5 separate regions of the Homo sapiens genome follow, and all the other regions are reported to be linked to region 1. Evidence: microRNA targets listed by miRTarBase, many of them from high-throughput screens and not tested one by one. Region 1 holds a microRNA gene; each other region holds the end of a gene's coding sequence. Distances are from middle to middle.

Region 1 (4,034 bases):
GAGAAGAAAGTTCTACTGGATGTTTTCTAGGGAATAATGGAGACTAGTTGATGAGATTCTGTTTCAGTGGTTTTCACATTTTTGGATTCAAGATCCCTTTTTACTTTTTAAATGTATTGAAAACCTCTGAGAAGTTTATGTTTGTTGTATAGGTTATGTATATGTATTAGTGTTTACTCTATTGAGAATTGACTGAGAAAACATTTATATATTTATTAATTCATTTTAAAATAGCCACCACATTGCATGTTGCATGTTAAAATAAATTGTGTACTTTTATGAAAAATAATTATATTCCAACACTAAGATAATTTTGTGAGAAGAGTGACTTATTTTACATTATTGACAATCTCTTTGATGTTTGGCTTAAGAGAGCTAGATTCTCACAACTACTTCTGCAGGCAATCTTTTGTGATAGCATATATCCTTTGGCCTCTAGACAGCACCGTTGTATATTTGTGAGATGATGAAAAAGATTTTGGCCCTTGGCCCTCCCGAAAGTCTCAGGGACTACCAAATGTCCTTGGACAACATTTGAGGACTTCTGTCTTATACTGTCAACGAATATCTACTGAGCACCTACTAAGTGCCAGCACTGCTGTACGGGTGGGAAGTACAGGACAAACAAGACCATGACCCTGCCCGCACAATGTTTACTTTCTCATGAGAGAAGGAGGATTCTAAAGTGAAACAACTAAGATGATTTCAGATAATGATAGGTGTTATGAAGAAAATTAGACTGGTATTAGGATGAACTGTAGTGTAGATGGGGTTGTGTTGTTATTTAGAGCCAGATTAACGAAATTGGCTCAAGGCAGTGACTTTAAGTGAGAGTAGCAGGAAGTGCAGCCGTGTGAAGAGCTATGGAGAGCTGTCTACTTTGGGGGAACAGCTGGTACAAAGCACCAAGGTAAATTGAAGAGTTAAAGGAACAAAAGTGCCAACCTGGAGGCAGAGAAAAGAAAGAAAATGAAACAAAGATGTGGGCAGAACCTATTTTATTTGAGGCCTTGTAGACCATGGCAACCCAGGATTTGAATTATATTCTAAATATTATTTGAGGATTTGAAGAAAAGAATGATGTAATCTAATTCACATCTTCAAAACATCACCATAGTTGAGAAGTGAAGCATGGGCTACAGAAGAGCAAGGAAGGGAGAGAGGAGACCTTTCAGGGGAGTGTCGCGTTAGGTTCGGATGAAACCACAGAGGAAGTAACAGGCAGTCATTACGTTCAAGATGAAGGTACAACTGACAAAACCAATACATTAATTTTCCTTTCAGTCTGATTAAAATCCATTTCTCTATCTGACCATTTCTCTAACTTGTCAAGTTTCACTTTGAAAGATGCTCCAGTATTTCAAGGTCTTAACACTCTTTCCAACTTTTGTCACACACAAATTTAATGAGCATCCTCTCTCTTAGACATCATTGTAGCATATTAATCATATACTGTCCTAACTTACCTTATCAGCTTGTGACAATGAGTCTTTTCTAAAAAAACTTTTCCTGTATATTCAAAATGAAGACTAATGAAGTTTATTTATACAAGCTAAAAATATAACACTCAGAATTACGTGTGCAAAATATTCCCTGTAAAGTATATTTTATTTCTCTTTTTCACTTCCCATCTGCCCCTTCCAAATACATCTTTGTCTTCTGGTTGTTGAGAGGTTGCAGGGTATTCATATTGTCTTATTGCTGGTACAGTAGGACGTTTGTGTATGACCCAGCTTTGTTTGTTAAGGTGCTTGAAGTAAGTAATATGCTCTCAATGAGACAAAAGCAACAATTTGGAAACAAAAGTGGAAATTAACAATGCCACTGGTTTCTGTTTAAAGAATTTATGTATCAGGCTTTCATTGTGAATAAACTCAGTAAGCAGCTACTCAAATGATGTGATTACATGGTCTAGGAATATACTCTTGGTCTCCAAAATGACTTCTCTATGACTCCTGGTAGTATATGAAACTTAGTAATTAACACTTTCTACCATTTAAATCAAATAAATATGTTTATCTCTGTGAAAATTCAGGTATTCTTAAGAGAGCCTCACTGATCCTCACCCGAAAATTCATGCTTTGGTTTTAATGGGTGTGCTTGCTGGTTTCTCTACAGAGAGCTGCTTTGACAGTTGCAAGATAAAAGAAGAAATAGTTGCTCAGAACCACAAAGAAAATAAATAGACATTGGAAGAAGAGGCATAAACAGTTTTCTCCGCCTGCTTCACCCCATTGCCTTGGCTTTTCTTGTCTTTCTTCTACCTTATCACGACCTTCTTTAGCAAACTATGATTTAGCTTAGAGGAGAAGCATGTTTAAAGAGTTGTAAGACAGGTTTTCTTTTCTAACTCTCCATCAGAATATTACTTACTTCTGAGACTGTTTTTCTTATTTATAAGAAAGGAGATTTATAACACTGTCAGCTATCTGTGTGAAGAATTATGTACATTTCAAATTCTCATTTTTTCATATGTATAGAACATTTTATGGTCTTCAGTTCTGTGATATACGTGTGTGTGTGTGTGTATATAGCATATGTGTATACATACACACACACACACACACACACACACACACACACACACGTATATGTACTGTCTTTTAAAATTTCCATAGTCGACTGGGTGTGGTGGCTCTTGCCTGTAATCCTAGCACTTTCGGAGGCTGAGGCGGATGGATCACCTGAGGTCAGGAGTTCAAGACCAGCCTGCCCAACATGGTGAAACCCCATCTCTGCTAAAAATACAAAAATTAGCCAAGCATGGTGGTGGGCGCCTGTAATCCCAGCTGCTTGGGAGGCTGAGACAGAAGAATCGCTTGAAGCTGGAGGGCAGAGGTTGCAGTGAGCCAAGATTGTGCCACTGCACTCCAGCCTGAGTGAAAGAGCGAAGCTCCATCTCAAAAAAAAAAAAAAAAAAATCAGAGTCACTCTGGTTAGGCTTATTTCCCTAATCCTTTGGAATATTAGTAAAACTGAGGCTCAAAAAACTAATGCACAAAGTCATATGGATAAAAAGCGATATCTAACCATTTATCTTCAACTCTTCCTACTATAGCACGTCGACATTTATTACCGTGTTCTAGATAAAAGCCTTCTTAGAACTATTAACATATTTCACATATTTTAATCTCTCAAATTTTGTTTCTCGTTTTGTACAATAATTTGTGCTCCTAGAGGAAAGCAAAGACTTAGTCTAATCTCTTTGTCAAATGGAAATAGACTAATGTTACTTACTATGAATAAGAGACTATATCTCTGTCCCTAGCAAGATGTCTCTGGCTAAGGGATTACCCATAGTTAATAGAACCCAGGATCTATGAGGCAGGGCTACCTGGAGCATATGACATAAGGTACACCACTTTATGTTATATGATGCACCTTATCTGAACTTGATAGCTTATATCCTTGAAATTATTTAGCAAAGCTTGATGCTGGGCAAGATCTTTAATTCATGTGAGTCTGATTTGACAATCTAATCCTCACATTTGTCGGTAAATAATACAATTAAAATATTCTGAAGGAATCTCAAGTACAAATACCAAAGATAAGATGCCTTCCCCCCACCGCCACCCCCTTACCCAGGTTGAAATGTTACTGATAAAATATGTTGGTAAATAGTCTCCCTACTGCACTGGTGAAATCAAAGCCACCCTTAAGCAGTGAAGATGGCTAATTTAATTTCAGTAGTTATAAATCAAAATTAAGCCTAGGAAACTGGACCCATAAATGGCTGCAGAGAATCCAGCTGTGTTTATTCTAAAGGCACTCCCAGATCAATTTGCATGGAGGTGATTTGGCTATGAGATAAGGGAACTGTCTTTCAGCCCCATCAGTTAGAACAGTCACCAGGATCTAAAGTACCCAATCAAGAGAATACCCCGCAATTAATTTTTTATAAGCCAAGGAAAGACTATTGCTAAAATGTAGAATAAAGCCTTTATTTTGTAATGATTACTTTTGTTCCAGAGAGCATTTTCTGGATTAAATATGAATATTGGGGATAAAAGGATTAACCGATTTTACCTCAAATT
Region 2 (4,034 bases), not on the chromosome of region 1:
AAGAAAAGATGACCAGCGACAGAGGGCTGGGTAGAGCCAGCAAAGGAGACCTCAAAAGGATGGCAGACAGGGTGAGGTAAGGTCAGGAATGTGTGCTGTGGCATTACTGAAACCTAAAGAGAAAAAAATCGTGTTTCAGGAAGAAATCAACTTATAAATGCTGAGGAAGAAAGGCTAGTAGTGATTATTATTTCTCATTACCTAAGCATTTGAGTCATTTCTGTTATTGTCTGAGAAGCTGGAGACACAAAAATAGGATTTGTAGGTAGCTTAGGGCCTAGTCAGAACCTCTATTTTCTTAACTCTAAAGTGGAATTAGAACTTTCATAGGTGTTTGAGGATGAACTGGTTAATACAGGTAAAGGCTCATGTTCTTCCATCTGCAGAAAGCATAGTGAGGTACATCAGGATTCTAAGATGTTTAATATGTATTTTTAAATAGGTTTGGTTAGAACTGAAATGTCTGCTATACTTTTATTATCAAATATGTTGATCCTTTCCTCCTGTTTTGATGTGAAGTCAGTTTTGTTGACTGCCTCTTCTTATCCCCAGGGGTGACCAGTCCCGGAAGAGAGCTGGGGATGAGTTGGCTTATAGTAAGTAATGATGTTCCTTCCCATCTTGATGGTTCTGTGATGTAAAGCAGCCATATTAATGCACTGTGATAACAGTGCATTGAATTTGATGATACCCATGTTGTTCTCATAAGGCACTGCTTGTAATCAAGGTCAGGATGCTTTGCATGCTGTGGCAGCTCCAGCTGGTAGCGATGGTTCTCAGGGCATTGGAAAGAGGCCACCAGGTTCTTTAGTTTCTACTGGGATGACATCGTAGCCCAGTCCCAGTTCCTTAGGTTCTCAGTCCCCTTTTACTTCCCTCCACCCCACATGGTTTTGAGGATTTTTTTTAAGCCTTTTTTGGGGAGTTGGGAGAGGAGTGAGAAATGTGTGTTGAATAAACAGATTCCTGCTGTTATCAAATGCTGTCTGCTCTTCATACTTTTTCCTATTCTGATGTTTTTTCAGATAGCTCGTCAGCATGTGCAAGTTCCAGGGGGTACAGATAGTGAATGTATTGAATATGCTTTCCTTCCTGAAAAGAGGACACACTGGAGCTGCAGAGACTGTATTCAGAGCACAGTGGGGGCTGCACACACTCAGGAGCTCTGTCACAAAGCTGTTCATGGAAGAGGATGTTGGACTTCTTACTTGGTTTGTAATTTTAAAACAAAAACTAAAAAAAAAAAAAACGTTGCTGCTAGACTTGGGGGTGATTTTGAAATGGGACAATCTTTTAATGAGTTTATCTACAGATTCTGTGAGGAAAAAGCATCTCAGAAAGTGACCATTTCTAAGTGAAATCTGACAGCCAAAATCAGCAGCTTCCTCCAAAAATATAAGAGCAGAAGAATTTTTTTTTTAAGCACTTGTTTTGTTCATTTGTGGACTTGGCATTTTGGTGTATTGGTTTCACATGTCAGGATCTCTTTTGCTTTAAAACCAAGCAGATCATTACAGTACAGTATTTTTCACCCACAACCAAAACAACCCCTTTTAAAAGAGTTGGTCTTTGTTTAGCATTAGAAAGTCTTGTTAAAGGAAAATGCTAACTCTGCTTTTGCTAGAACTTTCCCCCATCAGTTCACAACTTTCTTCTACTCTGTGCCTTGAGCTTTGTGCACTTTGCAACTGTGTGACCATGTTGTCAAACTCCTCCTGGAGAAGTGTATGGTATCTAAACTCACCCACCAAGATGGCAGGTGTGGCCCTGTAGCAGGATGCTAATTAAGTGGGAAAATAGAAACCTTTTGCACATGGGTCGGATTTTCCCCTGGTTCACCAGAGCATATTCATATTAATGTTGGGGACCAACTCTCCTAGAGCATTTCCATTCCCTGTGCCACTTAACACGATGTCTGTCACCAGCTGCTATAGTATTGGCAGTACTCTAGTTTAGGGATGGGCGGTACTTTAGCACGGAAGCTTCCCTTAGTATTATTGAGAGCTACTTCCTGCGATGCTCTAGGAAGCAGATACAGTTATTAAGTCCAAATACACAGTGGTGTGGGGTTCCTGATCACTTCATTTTAAATGAATGAGATAATTACTTAAAAAAAGTCTGTCATTTGAACATTATATTTGAGTGTGATAGGGAAGAAGTAGCACTGCTGTCCTAAGGCTCCCTTCCAGCTGTGGCAAAGCTATATTTCTGTTTCTCCACATCCACAGTGCTTTTTAGTCCATCATAAAAGTTTCTGAAGCTTATTCTAGCTGTTGTTGAAAGCCCAAGAAAAATAGATGTGGCAAGAGAAAAATACTTTTCTTCTCAATTTTGCTTGAATCTTAATTGAGCATAGGCTTCTCTACTAGGCAACATCAGACTAATAGTATTTACCTCTTCAGAGAACTTGAGGGGAAAAGAAACATCCCAGGGATGCTGTCGCATGTCTGCTCTGCAGGTTCTTCATACAGCTGCCTCTGCCAATTCAGTTTATTTTTTGGGGGGAGTGGTGTGGGTGGGAGAGTTAGAAGTGGGATATTGGGAGCAAGTAAGTCACCCAATAATTGAAGTCCTTGATTTGTAAAACTGTTATACAGAGAAGTAAAGATAAAGGTTGTCAGATTTATTTTTTAAAGTACTTAACCAGAGTTCGTGGATTTTGTGGACTTTAATTGGACTCAATTCACTCTGTGAGCATCCTGGATTGCATCGATGAACACTGAATTACTGTAAGAACATAGACAGGCTCTCACTATGACCTGGACAGTTTAAGTTGCTACACTGGTAACATTCTAGTATCAAGGAGAATTCCATTCATCATGACATTCACATTTTACTTTTCTCAATGGAATGCTTGCTTCAGGCTTACCAATCACACCTAGAACTGAAGTCTGAGTGAGTGGTATTAATAATTTTTCTGAAAGGAATAAAATTGGAATGTTTCTAAATGTGGAGAAATTCTTCAGTATCCTAATAATATACCCAAATGCTTTTTCTGGGAGAGAGCATTCTTTTACAAAAGAACTTTCCCTATAAAAGCATCACAGTATAATGTGAATTGGCATTAAAATCTTTGGATGCTTTTGCATTATTAAGTTCATGGAGAAATATATTCTTTTTACTATGTATGTATTAATAAAAAGTGGGCAAAGTAAAGTTTGCAAAATTTAGTTTCTCTAAATTTTTGCACAGTGACTGCAGCTGGCTATGGGTCAGCTCTTAATACAACAAAACCTTGACTGGAAGTCACTATAGAAAGGTTGTACATAGTCTCCCAGTCTACATGTCCTGGCTGTTAATCATCTTGGCCCCTTGAGGCACATCACAGTTTGAAGGACCTGTTTAAGTTGAAATAGACTTTGCTTATTTATTGGGATTCTAAAAAATTCTGAGTGAGTTTGCAGTATGAGAGGAAATAAGATTTCCTCCTCCTTCCTCTCATTTTATATTGACTGTTTGCCAGAAACTGTTTTCTTCTGTTTTCTTATATTTTGTTTTTGAGATGGAGTCTCACTCTCTCACCCAGGCTGGAGTGCAGTGGTGCAATCTCAGCTCACTGCAACCTCTGCCTCCTGGGTTCAAGTGATTCTCCTGCCTCGGCCTCCTGAGTAGCTGGAATTACAGGCACGTGCCACTACGCCCGGCTACTTTTTGTATTTTGTTTTTAGTAGAGACGGGGTTTCACCATGTTGGTCAGGCTGGTCTTGAACTCCTGACCTCAAGTGATCCACCCACCTCGGCCTCCCAAAGTGCTGGGATTATAGGTGTGAGCCACTGCACCTGGCCTTTTTTTTTTTTTTTTTTGTATTCTTGCCAGTACAGTATATGGTTTTTCTACCCCAATTACATACTGGGTTTTGTACCACATCACTAAAGGCCCAAATCATTGAAGATACAAAACCGTACATGCAGGCTGGTTGTCTGGTTAGTCAATGGCTGATTTGCTTCAACTGTCTAGTATGTATGTGCAGCCTGAAACTGGCTCCTTAAAAGGAAAGCCGGGTCAGTCATCTTGAAAAAATGACATGTAAAAG
Region 3 (4,034 bases), not on the chromosome of region 1:
AAGCAGAGTGGCATAGTGAGGGGCACAGAGACTAAAATCCATCCAGCCCAGCCCAGGACTCCAGCCCGTATCACTTTCTACCTGTGTACCATTTCTGAGCTTAATTTTCCCCCTCTATAAAATGGGGATAATATGGAAGTATTGAATTTATTAGGATTGTTACAAGAATTAAATGACCTGTTGTATACAAAAGACTTAATCCACTGCCTGGGACATGTTAGGTACTTCATAAATACTGATGGTTACTTTTACTTTCAGGATTAGCATGTTCTGTATTTTTAAAAATAGCTTTAGGCTTTTTTATAACAGTGTCTTATTCTTTTACAAAAAATAGATGGAGATGTTATTGGGCCTTTGCCACCGGAGCCAGAGGCTGTGCCAACCCCACGTCCTGCTGCCCAGAGTAGCAAAGTAGAAGTCATTGTCCAGGAGAGGAAGGACACCAAGCCTGGAGTGCCACACATCCGGGAGTGGGACCGCGGAAAAGGTAAGGGAGGTGGGCTCTGAGGTGTAAGAACTCTCCAGTGAATGGAAAATGGTTTTTTTTCTAGAAGCACTTGGGGTAAGTTTTAACTTCGTGCTGCCTTGTGTGGTTTTACAGCTTTGGAATGCCATTTCTCAGGACCTGCCTTTAAAGTATTATGAAAGTTTGGTGTTCTCATATGCTCTGTTTTTAGCAGCCTCTTTTATGTTCAGTTGAAAATGGTCTACATGCCAGTGTACTAACCTGGATTCACACATGGTTCCATTGGGGAATTTCCCTGGACATTTTTTCTGTAAATTCTCCAGAGTGTCCACAGCAGCCTCTCTGGAAGACTATGGTTTATGCCTCTTTGAAAAAGATCATTTCAGTAGAACATTAGCCCATGCTGTCTGAGCTGATAAGATCCAAAGCTAAAGTAAGAGAAATGCAAGAGCCACTGTTAGAAATAGAGATGAAATACCAGACAAGGTTGGACAGTTCCCTTTTGTGTCTTCCAAAACTCAATAACGGACAAAATTTGTATTTTGGTATGAAATACCTACAATGTCATGTCAAGCAGATAATTTGTCTGTATTTCTCTTTTTCTGTATTTCCCCATCTAGAGATAGTCACTCCCTTTTCTTAGCCTGGTCTTTTATACTCGTTGTAGGTATTACTTATACCTTGTAATATAGTTTTGCTGTTGCCATTCTTATTCTTTGGATAATTTGTGGTGGCTTTTAAGAAATATATGATACAATTAGATAATAGTAACAATAAATTCAACTGATTCGTTAATCAGTTCTAATAACTTTCTTTCTTATTTTTACCAGAATTTTCCTTTGGATACTGGTCGAAGAGGCAGTCAGATCTCCGGGCTGAGAGAGATCCTGAGTTTGCCCCGCCGTCAGATTACTTTGTGGGTCAGAAGAGAACTGGTTTTTCCAGCAGCCAGGCATGGAGCAGACCTGGGCCAGCACAGAGTGACCCAGGGCAGTGCCCTGACCAGAGCCACGGACCTAGCCCTGAACATACGTCACCCACTCCTGCCCCCGACAACCCACCACAAGCCCCCACAGTTACTTTCAAAACTCTGGATGACATGATTTCCTATTACAAACAAGTGACATGATCTTTCAAAGCACGCTGACTTGGGTTTGTACTTTGACAGTGCCTTTCTCTCCCAGAGGGAGAAATAACTTTAGGAACTGAATTGTACCTTTGTCCTGTCCTTTCCCTAGGAGGCACAGACTTCGGGTTGGATTTGTCAGCAAGGAGGAAAGTTATGGAAACTTTGGCCACTTGGCTGTTCATTTTATTCTAAGTGGGATAGGGACATACCTACCTGGATTTACATGTGAGCTGCGATAGAATAGAAGTATTTATTCTGTAAAATTAGACACTGAGATGTGCTTATAACCCTGTTTCATATCTACTCCCACGACTTACTCATATTTAAGGGTTCTTTTCCATTCCTTTTGCAAATCCGAGCATGCAGGTGTCTTTATTCCAAGGGTTCAGCTTCCAGATCAGCCGATGGACCATAGGTCACGAGGAATTTCTCCCTGTCAAGCAGTGGAAAACTGCATGGGAGGCAAAATGCTCTGTTCTCCAAGAGGACCCGGAAGTAATCACATAGGAAATGATAAGGAAGACCAGGAGGAGCTCTTCGTAGTCCAGAAAGGTAGAAGTGGGAGTTGTTTACTTAATTTTACTGTCATACCATGCTATTACCTACACTCCTGTGTGCAGTGGGCATTCAGTAAATGTGTGTTGAAGGACTGGGACGTACGTGGAGGCTGCTGGACCTGGTCAGAGACTGATGTGCCTTAGCGGCAATGGTTAGAGCTTTTCAGTGCATCCCACCTCCCTGTCGCCCCCATGCTCGGCTTCCTCACATTCAGGAGCCTGACTTGGATCAGACTTGGGGCTGCACAGTGGAGCAGGTGGGTTCCCGTGTCATTAGTAATAAGGAGAGGGTTGGGGGTGGGCAGGGCTCCAGAAAGTCAGCAGTGTGCCTGGGCACCCACCCCATCCTCTACCTGCCACACCTCAGAGGGTTCCTACAGCTGCACACAAGCAGTTGAGAGTTGATGACCAGGCCCATAGGGCTCCCACAGCTGGTTCCCAGGCCAGTGAGTGCTGTGAGAATACAGTAGCACAAGTCCTTGTTCTCTGAAGAGTGGGAAGGAGAGGAGTGAGTGAAGTAGCCTGTCCCCTGCAGGTCCTCTGCGATGGCATTGTCTCGGTTCCCGCAGTGCTGCAGTGTGGAAGGGAGTGCCCCATCCTCATTACAGATGACACACTGGAGTGTGGAGGGGTCGATGACTTGTGCAGGGTCATATGGTACCTAAGGGGCAGATCTCAGACTTAAACACAATTGATGTCTAACCCCTAGACAGTCTTTTTAGTGCCCTCTGCTCTCAGTCTTGTTGCCCTAGTATCAAGCAATCTTAGACAAACATCCTGAATTCTTACAAACTTACCTCTAAACTCTGAGGATAAAGTTGCCAGTCCTTTTAATGGTCAGCCTAATCATTCTGTCAGCCTAATCGGGTAATTGCTTTTTTTAATAAATACACATAAAAACCAACTAACCCAGCTGCCTTTTTTGCAGAAATTGACAAGCTAATCTTAAAATTCACATGGAAATGCAAGGAACCCAGAATAGTCAAAACAATCTAGAGAAAAAACAAAGAGGACTCACACTTCCTGATTTCAAGATTGACCACAAAGCTACGATAATCTACACAGTGTGGTAGTGGCATAAGAATAGACACATAGATCAGTGGAATAGAGGCGAGAGTCCAGAAATAAAACATATATCCGTGGTCAATTGATTTTTGACAGTGGTGCCAGGACCATCCAGTGGGGAAAGAGCAGTCTTTTCAACAAATGGTTCTGGGACAAGTGAATATTCCATGCAAAAGAATGGGTTTGGACTTCTGCCTCACACCACATACAAAAAATCAACTCACGATGAATCAAAGACCTAAATGTAAGAGCTAAAACTACAAAACCTACTGAAACAGCTTGTAGGATAAAGAGGGAGGAGACAAAAAGAAAAATTGGAATACTAAAAAGAAAAATAGAATTATTAGACATGCTAGAATCATAGGAAAAATAGAAAAAAGAAAGGGTAGAAAGAAAACAGCTGGGCACGGTGGCTCACGCCTGTAATCCCAGCACTTTGGGAGGCCAAGGCGGGCGGATCACGAGGTCAGGAGATCGAGACCATCCTGGCTAACACGGTGAAACCCTGTCTCTACTAAAAATACAAAAAATTAGCCAGGCGTGGTGGCAGGTGCCTGTGGTCCCAGCTACTCAGGAGGCTGAGGCAGGAGAATGGCATGAACCCAGGAGGCGGAGCTTGCAGTAAGCCAAGATCGCGCCACTGCACTCTAGCCTGGGCAACAAGAGCAAGGCTGTGTCTCAAAAAAAAAAAAAAAAACAATGAATAGACAAAGAAAGATGGAAAGAGGATGTGTGTGTAACCCAGAGCAGAAGGACTTGAGGCTGACTGTGGAGTAGAAAGGAGAAGGGAGACAGAGACAAGGCAGGCAGCAGGAAG
Region 4 (3,000 bases), 12 Mb from region 1:
TCACAAATCCTGGCCTCAAGTGATCGGCCCGCCTAGGCCTCCCAAAGTGCTGGGATTACAGGCGTGAGCCACCGCGCCCAGCTGGCTTCTTCCTTTTCAAAGGCCTCCCTCATCTTGTCAGTCATTTCCTTGCTGACTTCAGTCTGTTCATATTCCCCTTCTATTTGCTTTCTGAAGACATCCAGGGTTTGAACAGGAGAGTCTTAGCCACTAGGAGAAAGGTGATGTGTGCTAAATTTTGCTTTCAGGATCATGGAACTTTGAAGCCGTGAGGGAGGAACTTTCTGTTCCCCTGAAGTTTCTGAACTGCTTCTGCAAGTGTGGTCTGGGAACGGTAACATCATTATCTGGGAGTCTGTTGGAAATGCAAATTCCTGGGTCCCAACTAGAACTACTGAATCAGAATCTGTTGGGAGGAGGGTCCAGCAATCTGTTTTGAAAAGCCCTGCAGCTGATTCTGATGCTTGCCAACATGCAGGAAGCACTGGACTATACCATCTTGTTATTAGACAACTATGCAGGAAAATAGCTGTGTTATCAGACTGTATTCAAAGGCCCTGAAACCTAAATATTTGCTGATTCTGATGCTTGCTAAAGTGCAAGAAGCACTGGGCTATACCATCTTGTTATTAGACAACTATGCAGGAAAATAGCTATGTTATCAGGGCCTGTATTCAAAGGCCCTGAAGCTTAAATATTTTAAAATATTTCTTACAGCTGGACATGGCAGCTCACACCTATATTCCCAGCACTTTGGGAGGCCAAGGTGGAAGGATCACTTGAACCCAGGAGTTGAAGACAAGCCTGGGCAACATATCAAGACCCTCTTTTAAAAAAAAAAAAAAAAAAAAAAAGCCAGGCACGGAGGCTCTCATGCCTATAATCCCAGCACTTTGGGAGGCCACGGCAGGCAGATCATGAGGTCAGGAGTTCAAGACCAGCCTGGTCAACATGGTGAAACCCTGTCTCTACTAAAAATACAAACATTAGCTGGGCATGGTGCTATGTGCCTGGTAATCCCAGCTACTGAGGGGGCTGAGGCAGGAGAATGGCTTGAACTCAGGAGGCAGAGGTTGCAGTGAGCCGAGATTGTGCCACTGCACTCCAGCCTGAGTGACAGAGCAAGACTCTGTCTCAAAAACAAACAAACAAACAAAAAACCCACAAAAAACAGCCGGGCACGGTGGCTCACACCTGTAATCCCAGAACTTTGGGAGGCCGAGGCGGGCGGATCACCTGAGGTCGGGAGTTTGAGACCAGCCTGACCAACATGGAAAAACCCCGTCTCTACTAAAAAAATACAAAATTAGTGGGGCGTGATGGTGCATGCCTGTAATACCAGCTACTCAGGAGGCTGAGGCAGGAGAATTGCTTGAACCTGGGAGGCAGAGGTTGTGGTAAGCCGAGATTGCACTATTACACTCCAGCCTGGGGAACAAGAGTGAAACTCCATCTCAAAAACCAAAACAAAAACTCCACAAAAAAACCAGAAAACTGTAATTCAATAGGTAATGCTGTGTTCCAATAATTTTTTTTTTTTTTTTTGAGACGGAGTCTCGCTCTGTCACCCAGGCTAGAGTGCAGTGGCGCGATCTCGGCTCACTGCAAGCTCTGCCTCCCGGGTTCATGCCATTCTCCTGCCTCAGCCTCCTGAGTAGCTGGGACTACAGGCACCTGCCACCACGCCCGGCTAATTTTTTTTGTATTTTTAGTAGAGAAGGGGTTTCACCGTGTTAGCCAGGATGGTCTCGATCTCCTGACCTCATGATCCACCTGCCTCGGCCTCCCAAAGTGCTGGGATTACAGGCGTGAGCCACCGCGCCCCACCAAGACACATCTTTTAAAAACAGACACATACAGTTAGTGAAGAGACTTAACAAGACCATGATCTTACCATAATATTTTATATTGAATCTAACATGTTACATTTTTTTCCAAATGCTTTTCTTGCCTAACAAAAATGGGGGTGTAACCCCATCACAAGAAAAGACCCATACAGGTGAAACCCCATCTCTACTAAAATACAAAAAATTAGCTGGGAGTGGTGGCGTGCACCTGTAGTCCCAGCTACTCGAGAGGCTGAGGCAGGGGAATCGGTTGAACCTGGGAGGCGGAGGTTGCACTGAGCTGAGATTGCGCCACTGCACTCAAACCTGGCAACAGAGCGAGACTCCATCTCAAAAAAAAAAGAAAAAAAGAAAAAAGAAGACCCATACAATTCTGATGTCCCTGTGCTAATTTTATGCATGGGATGCTATACTTGCCCTAGTTCATTAATTTCCCAAGGAAATTAGCACTTATAACCCACTCCTCTGATTTTACCAAAACAACAAAGAATTATACACACACACACATACACACACACAGTCATGTACATTTACATTTAAAACATTTTATGAGGGATAAAATATAGTCTTTTTCTATCAGTATGTTCACACTTCCTGGCCTCTCATTGGGAAGCTGTAAGATGTCCTTCAATAAGATCCTGAACACGCGACAGAATAATCTCATTAGAGCTGCTGCAATTTTCTGGACCATATGGTGGGTCTATAGTCAGGACCCCAGCCACACAGAGAGTCCTTGGAGCGTCTCCCTGTTCAGTGATGGGGATGTGGTTCTTCTCAAGCCATTTCTTTAGGCTGTTCTTTCTCTCTTCCAGATCCTCTGGGCTGTATGCTTTGCAGTCTCCAGACGTGAACAAATGCATCAGCTTCTCCCTCACTCTATGGTCCCCTTCATTCATAGTTTCAACAGTCTGCACAGCATGTCCCATAATTCCGGTCACAGACATGCTGCCATCTTCAAGGAAGTTCACAAGGACAATACTTTGGAGGAAAAGTAAGTTTAGAGGCATCATCAACCCAAGTAGGTCACTAAAATAATAGATGACACTCTACTCTGTTTGAAATTAATCCTGTCACCAATGAATGCTTCCATTTATTCAACAAACATTCACTAAGGATCCTAAATAGGTAAACTTTTTGCCCAGCCTACAGCCAA
Region 5 (4,034 bases), not on the chromosome of region 1:
AGCACAGTATTTGGGTGGGAGTGACCCGATTTTCCAGGTGACCCGTTTCTTTGACTAGGAAAGGGAACTCCCTGACCCCTTGTGCTTCCCGAGTGAGGCAATGCCTCGCCCTGCTTCGGCTCGCGCATGGTGCGCACACCCACTGACCTGCGCCCACTGTCTGGCACTCCCTAGTGAGATGAACCTGGTACCTCAGATGGAAATGCAGAAATCACCCGTCTTCTGTGTCGCTCAGGCTGGGAGCTGTAGACCAGAGCTGTTCGTATTTGGCCATCTTGGCTCCTCCCCCTTCTCTTTTGTTATGAGTGGTCAGGGATGTCCTCTCCGGGGTGGTGGTATTTGAGCAGACATATGGATAAAGTATGGAAGTGACACACAACTTTATTGAGAAAGACCATCTCAGGCAAATATAAAGTCTCTGAAGAGGAAGATGTGTGTGTATGTGTGTGTGTGTGAGTATAAATAATGTGTATATGTATGTATATTTTAATAACCACATAGACTAAAACTATCCAACTGAAACAACTTAGGTATACTTTGAGAAATATAAAATGAAATTGTAAGGTAGAGGTAGCATTAATAAACTATCTAGTATACCATTAAATAAGTTTGTGGTGATTGGTGATTCAACACCCGAATCATCTAGGTAAATCCTGAAAAACTCATATTTTATTAATTGCTTCTCCTTCCCCTTCTTTCCCCGTCCCCACTCCTTTCTCGTCTCTTTCCCCCCCTCTCCTTTTCTCCCATCTTTCACTTCTAATTTCAGTGAAATTGGAGCGATTTGAAATTCCAATCAAGGTTCGATTAAGCCCAGAGCCATGGACCCCTGAAACTGGTTTGGTAACTGATGCTTTCAAACTGAAAAGGAAGGAGCTGAGGAACCATTACCTCAAAGACATTGAACGAATGTATGGGGGCAAATAAAATGTTGTTGTCTTATTGACAGTTGTGCAGGAGGTAGCCTGGTGGTTTTCAACCTCTAGAATTTTAAGCCTTTGTTGAACTGTTAGAATGTAAGGTATATCATTCTAAAGATAGAGTAAAAAGAAAACAAAACCAAAAGTTATTAAAATTGTTGTCCGGTTTACTTTAACTTAGTTTTGCATAGTTCTAGTGCAGCTGAAATTGAAAAGTTATTTCCCTTTAGCTGTGTTATTATAGAGCAGAAATTCTGTTTTTAAAAATTAGCCTAAGATATACTTGTTTTTGTAAAGAAAAATATTTAATGTTGAACAAAATAAATTGGAGTTGGAGTAGAATGTAGTTTGAGGAAATTTGCAGCTTCCAATGCCTCTTGTCTTCCTATTTCAGAAGTTTAAATATTAAGCATGACAGAAAATATGTATTAACACTACTCAAAGCAAAAGTGCTGCAGGGCTTTAAAATTCTCTTCCAACCATTTATCTTGAAGGAAAAATTCAATAGTAATATAATACACAAAATCAAATAATACCTTAGAAGGTATTAAGATTATAATTGTTGCATAGGTTAGATATAGAGTCATTGTAATGTTGTGAATAATTACAGTGCCTAAAATAAGAATAGAACAACATATACAACACCAAAAAATATCTAGTAATATATTTAAAGGGAAATTGAGCTGCTTTTTTTGAAACTTTGAGATCTAAAAATAACTGTAATTATTTGAATGACTAAGAGGAAAGTACATTTTTTGAAATGCTGAAAATTGCCTTTCTGTGTTTATTCAAACTGAAAAGCTGAGACCAAGAGCAAGGAAGGTAAAAAGTTAACAGGCAAACATTTTCTCTTAGAAAAGGTGATAAAATCATAAGTATTTGGAATTAGAACCCTTGCACAGCACTGAACCTGGGAAAGAGATTTAAACTCTGAATTTATCTTTGATAACAGGGATTGATTTTAAAATGTACATGTATTAAATTACATTTGTAATTTAAGGTCTGTTTGCTGTTGCTGATTTTATTCTTGATCAGTAGTTTGCATTTCAGAAAGCCTTTCATTTTGCTTTAATTTTAGCAAAGCGGGTTATAATGAATGACTTCCCCAATATCTTGCTTGAACTTACAGGTGATTAACTTGGATGAGTTTTGGGAAGTTAAAGGGAAGAAAACACTGTTATCATTTTTTCCTGTTTGGGAAGAGCTTAGAAACTGGAAATACTAGATTTGGGAGAAGGGCAGAGTTACTTGATAAGGGACTGATGTTTGTGCAGTAACTTGGGAGTGTGGTTTCTTTTTGAATCTTTAATTAAAACCTGGGATTATATATCCCTGATAAATATTCACACTTGAACCATAGTTACTGTAAAATGCAAAAAATCTTAATACTGTTATTCTTTGCACTTTTTCTTAATCATTTTTTATATATATGCATATATATATGTGTGTGTGTGTGTTGCTTATGTTGTTTTGTACAGATGTGGGCCACCATTGCAACAAAATACATTCTTTTTGCTCTAAAATATTTATGAAGAAAATACTTAAATGTTATGTATATGGTGGTAATAAGGGAAAAATCAAGTATTATAAACAAGAATGAAGGTTTTTGTAAAGATTTCTGTTCAGCGTTTTGCAAGGTAAAATTTTAGGCAAGTTTTCCCTGAAGTTATGTGTATGTGAGTATTCTCATTCTTCCCAACTTGCCTTTGAAGAGTGAAATACCATTATTATCAAGTAGACTACTGTTCAGCTTTTATTCCTGCCCTGCTGTTTATCCCTTAAGAATGAGTTTCTTAGACTTTTCCAATATGTGATTTTTTTTCCCATTTAGAATGGTGATTTTAAATGTGTGAGTGCATGTACTATCTTATCTCAGATATTTGCACCCCCAATCTGCCCCCAACTCCCAAAAGCTAGAACACTGCCAACTGATCTGTTATAGGTCCTTTAGAAACACATAATTAACACTTAAGGTTGGGTGCTGCTAATTCTTTGCAAAAATCCAAATATTGTTAAGGGACCAGGGAGATGCCACTACCCCTTGATTTTCCATCTAAAAATATACATGTTTATGTAAACAAATCTTTCCATATCCATAGTGACTTTTCAAGTATTTAAGCCTAAAGATTTTGATCTCACATTTTTATACCTGTTTAAATTGCTCACAGTTATTACATACACATCAGCCATCAACTAAAGTTGTACTTTAAAAATTTACTACAATATGTACATTTCTAAGTCAAACACTTGTGACTTTTGCTTTAATTCCATGAATGTTCCTGCCTCCTTGATATTTGTATTTATTCTTTTTTTCTCTAGAGTAGAGGTATAATTGTGTGATATTTCAGAAATACAGATAAATGATTCAAAAAGTCACAGTTAAGGAGAATCATGTTTCTTTGATCATGAATAACTGATTAGTAAGTCTTGCCTATATTTTCCTGATAGCATATGACAAATGTTTCTAAGGTAACAAGATGAGAACAGATAAAGATTGTGTGGTGTTTTGGATTTGGAGAGAAATATTTTAATTTTTAAATGCAGTTACAAATTATAATGTATTCATATTTGTACTTTCTGTTAAAATGCATGATTGCAGAATTGTTTAGATTTTGTGTTTATTCTTGATGAAAAGCTTTGTTTGTTCTTGTTTTTAAGTTTGCACTCAAATCTTAAGAAATAAATCCACCCATGTTATCAAGCCAATTTGTACTTCATTATGCATTGAGATAAAATCTCCAAGTTTGAAGATTATTAACCAAACTTTTAAACACATATTTTTAAAGTACTCATCTCCAGGTTTATGGAATTGCATTAAGCAGTTAAACCGGCTTGTATAGTCCCATCCATTAGTTCAGAGTATTTGAATCCCAAACTGTTACTTTGGTCCAGTCAATAGAGTAAAACCCCTTTGTAACACTGATACTTTGGGACAAAACATGGATTATCAGTGGGCGCTACCAAATTATAACTGCTACTTTTAGGCTAATTAATATTTTAGAGAGAAATTAATTTGAGTTATATGAGGGTGTGTATAAAATGGCATTAAGAGCTCTATTTCCTGGCTTTGCCACTGTAGTTGTGTAACCTTCAGCAAATTAATTAACATTTTGG

Evidence for each region. Region 1 holds the annotated microRNA hsa-miR-8485 (CACACACACACACACACGUAU, at 2,571-2,591, shown strand). A microRNA usually pairs through its seed, bases 2 to 8, with sites in the 3' UTR of a target mRNA and lowers its output. Matches are read on the target gene's strand: a 7mer-m8 pairs with bases 2 to 8, a 7mer-A1 pairs with bases 2 to 7 and ends in A, and an 8mer does both.
Region 2: the mRNA of CACUL1 is a reported target of hsa-miR-8485. The part of its 3' UTR that is shown has no 7-base or 8-base seed match.
Region 3: the mRNA of CCDC174 is a reported target of hsa-miR-8485. Seed matches in the 3' UTR shown: 7mer-m8 at 2,231-2,237.
Region 4: miRTarBase lists GEMIN6 as a target of hsa-miR-8485. Seed matches in the 3' UTR shown: 7mer-m8 at 2,360-2,366, 7mer-m8 at 2,358-2,364, 8mer at 2,355-2,362, 7mer-m8 at 2,348-2,354, 7mer-m8 at 2,346-2,352, 7mer-m8 at 2,344-2,350 and 1 more.
Region 5: miRTarBase lists ACSL4 as a target of hsa-miR-8485. Seed matches in the 3' UTR shown: 7mer-m8 at 2,363-2,369, 7mer-m8 at 2,365-2,371, 7mer-m8 at 2,367-2,373, 7mer-m8 at 2,369-2,375 and 7mer-m8 at 2,371-2,377.

Annotation. Positions count from the first base shown.
Region 1 is chr2:50,694,729-50,698,762 of GRCh38, reverse strand. It overlaps MIR8485 (microRNA 8485), which reads left to right and starts at 2,501; the gene lies at 2,501-2,591. All of the region lies in intron 5 of NRXN1 (neurexin 1), which reads left to right.
Region 2 is chr10:118,683,160-118,687,193 of GRCh38, reverse strand. It overlaps CACUL1 (CDK2 associated cullin domain 1), which reads left to right. Exons shown (of 9, transcript NM_153810.5): 8 at 553-596; 9 at 1,026-4,034. The coding sequence ends at 1,066. Among named protein-coding and RNA genes, the nearest start is that of CACUL1, 70 kb to the left of the region's middle.
Region 3 is chr3:14,669,600-14,673,633 of GRCh38, forward strand. It overlaps CCDC174 (coiled-coil domain containing 174), which reads left to right. Exons shown (of 11, transcript NM_016474.5): 10 at 335-487; 11 at 1,297-3,056. The coding sequence ends at 1,595. Among named protein-coding and RNA genes, the nearest start is that of C3orf20, 3.5 kb to the right of the region's middle. RefSeq lists enhancers at 1,385-2,584, 2,519-2,728.
Region 4 is chr2:38,781,342-38,784,341 of GRCh38, reverse strand. It overlaps GEMIN6 (gem nuclear organelle associated protein 6), which reads right to left. Exons shown (of 3, transcript NM_024775.10): 3 at 1-2,825. The coding sequence ends at 2,450. Among named protein-coding and RNA genes, the nearest start is that of GEMIN6, 4.6 kb to the right of the region's middle.
Region 5 is chrX:109,640,922-109,644,955 of GRCh38, reverse strand. It overlaps ACSL4 (acyl-CoA synthetase long chain family member 4), which reads left to right. Exons shown (of 16, transcript NM_001318510.2): 16 at 770-3,621. The coding sequence ends at 927. Among named protein-coding and RNA genes, the nearest start is that of KCNE5, 18 kb to the right of the region's middle.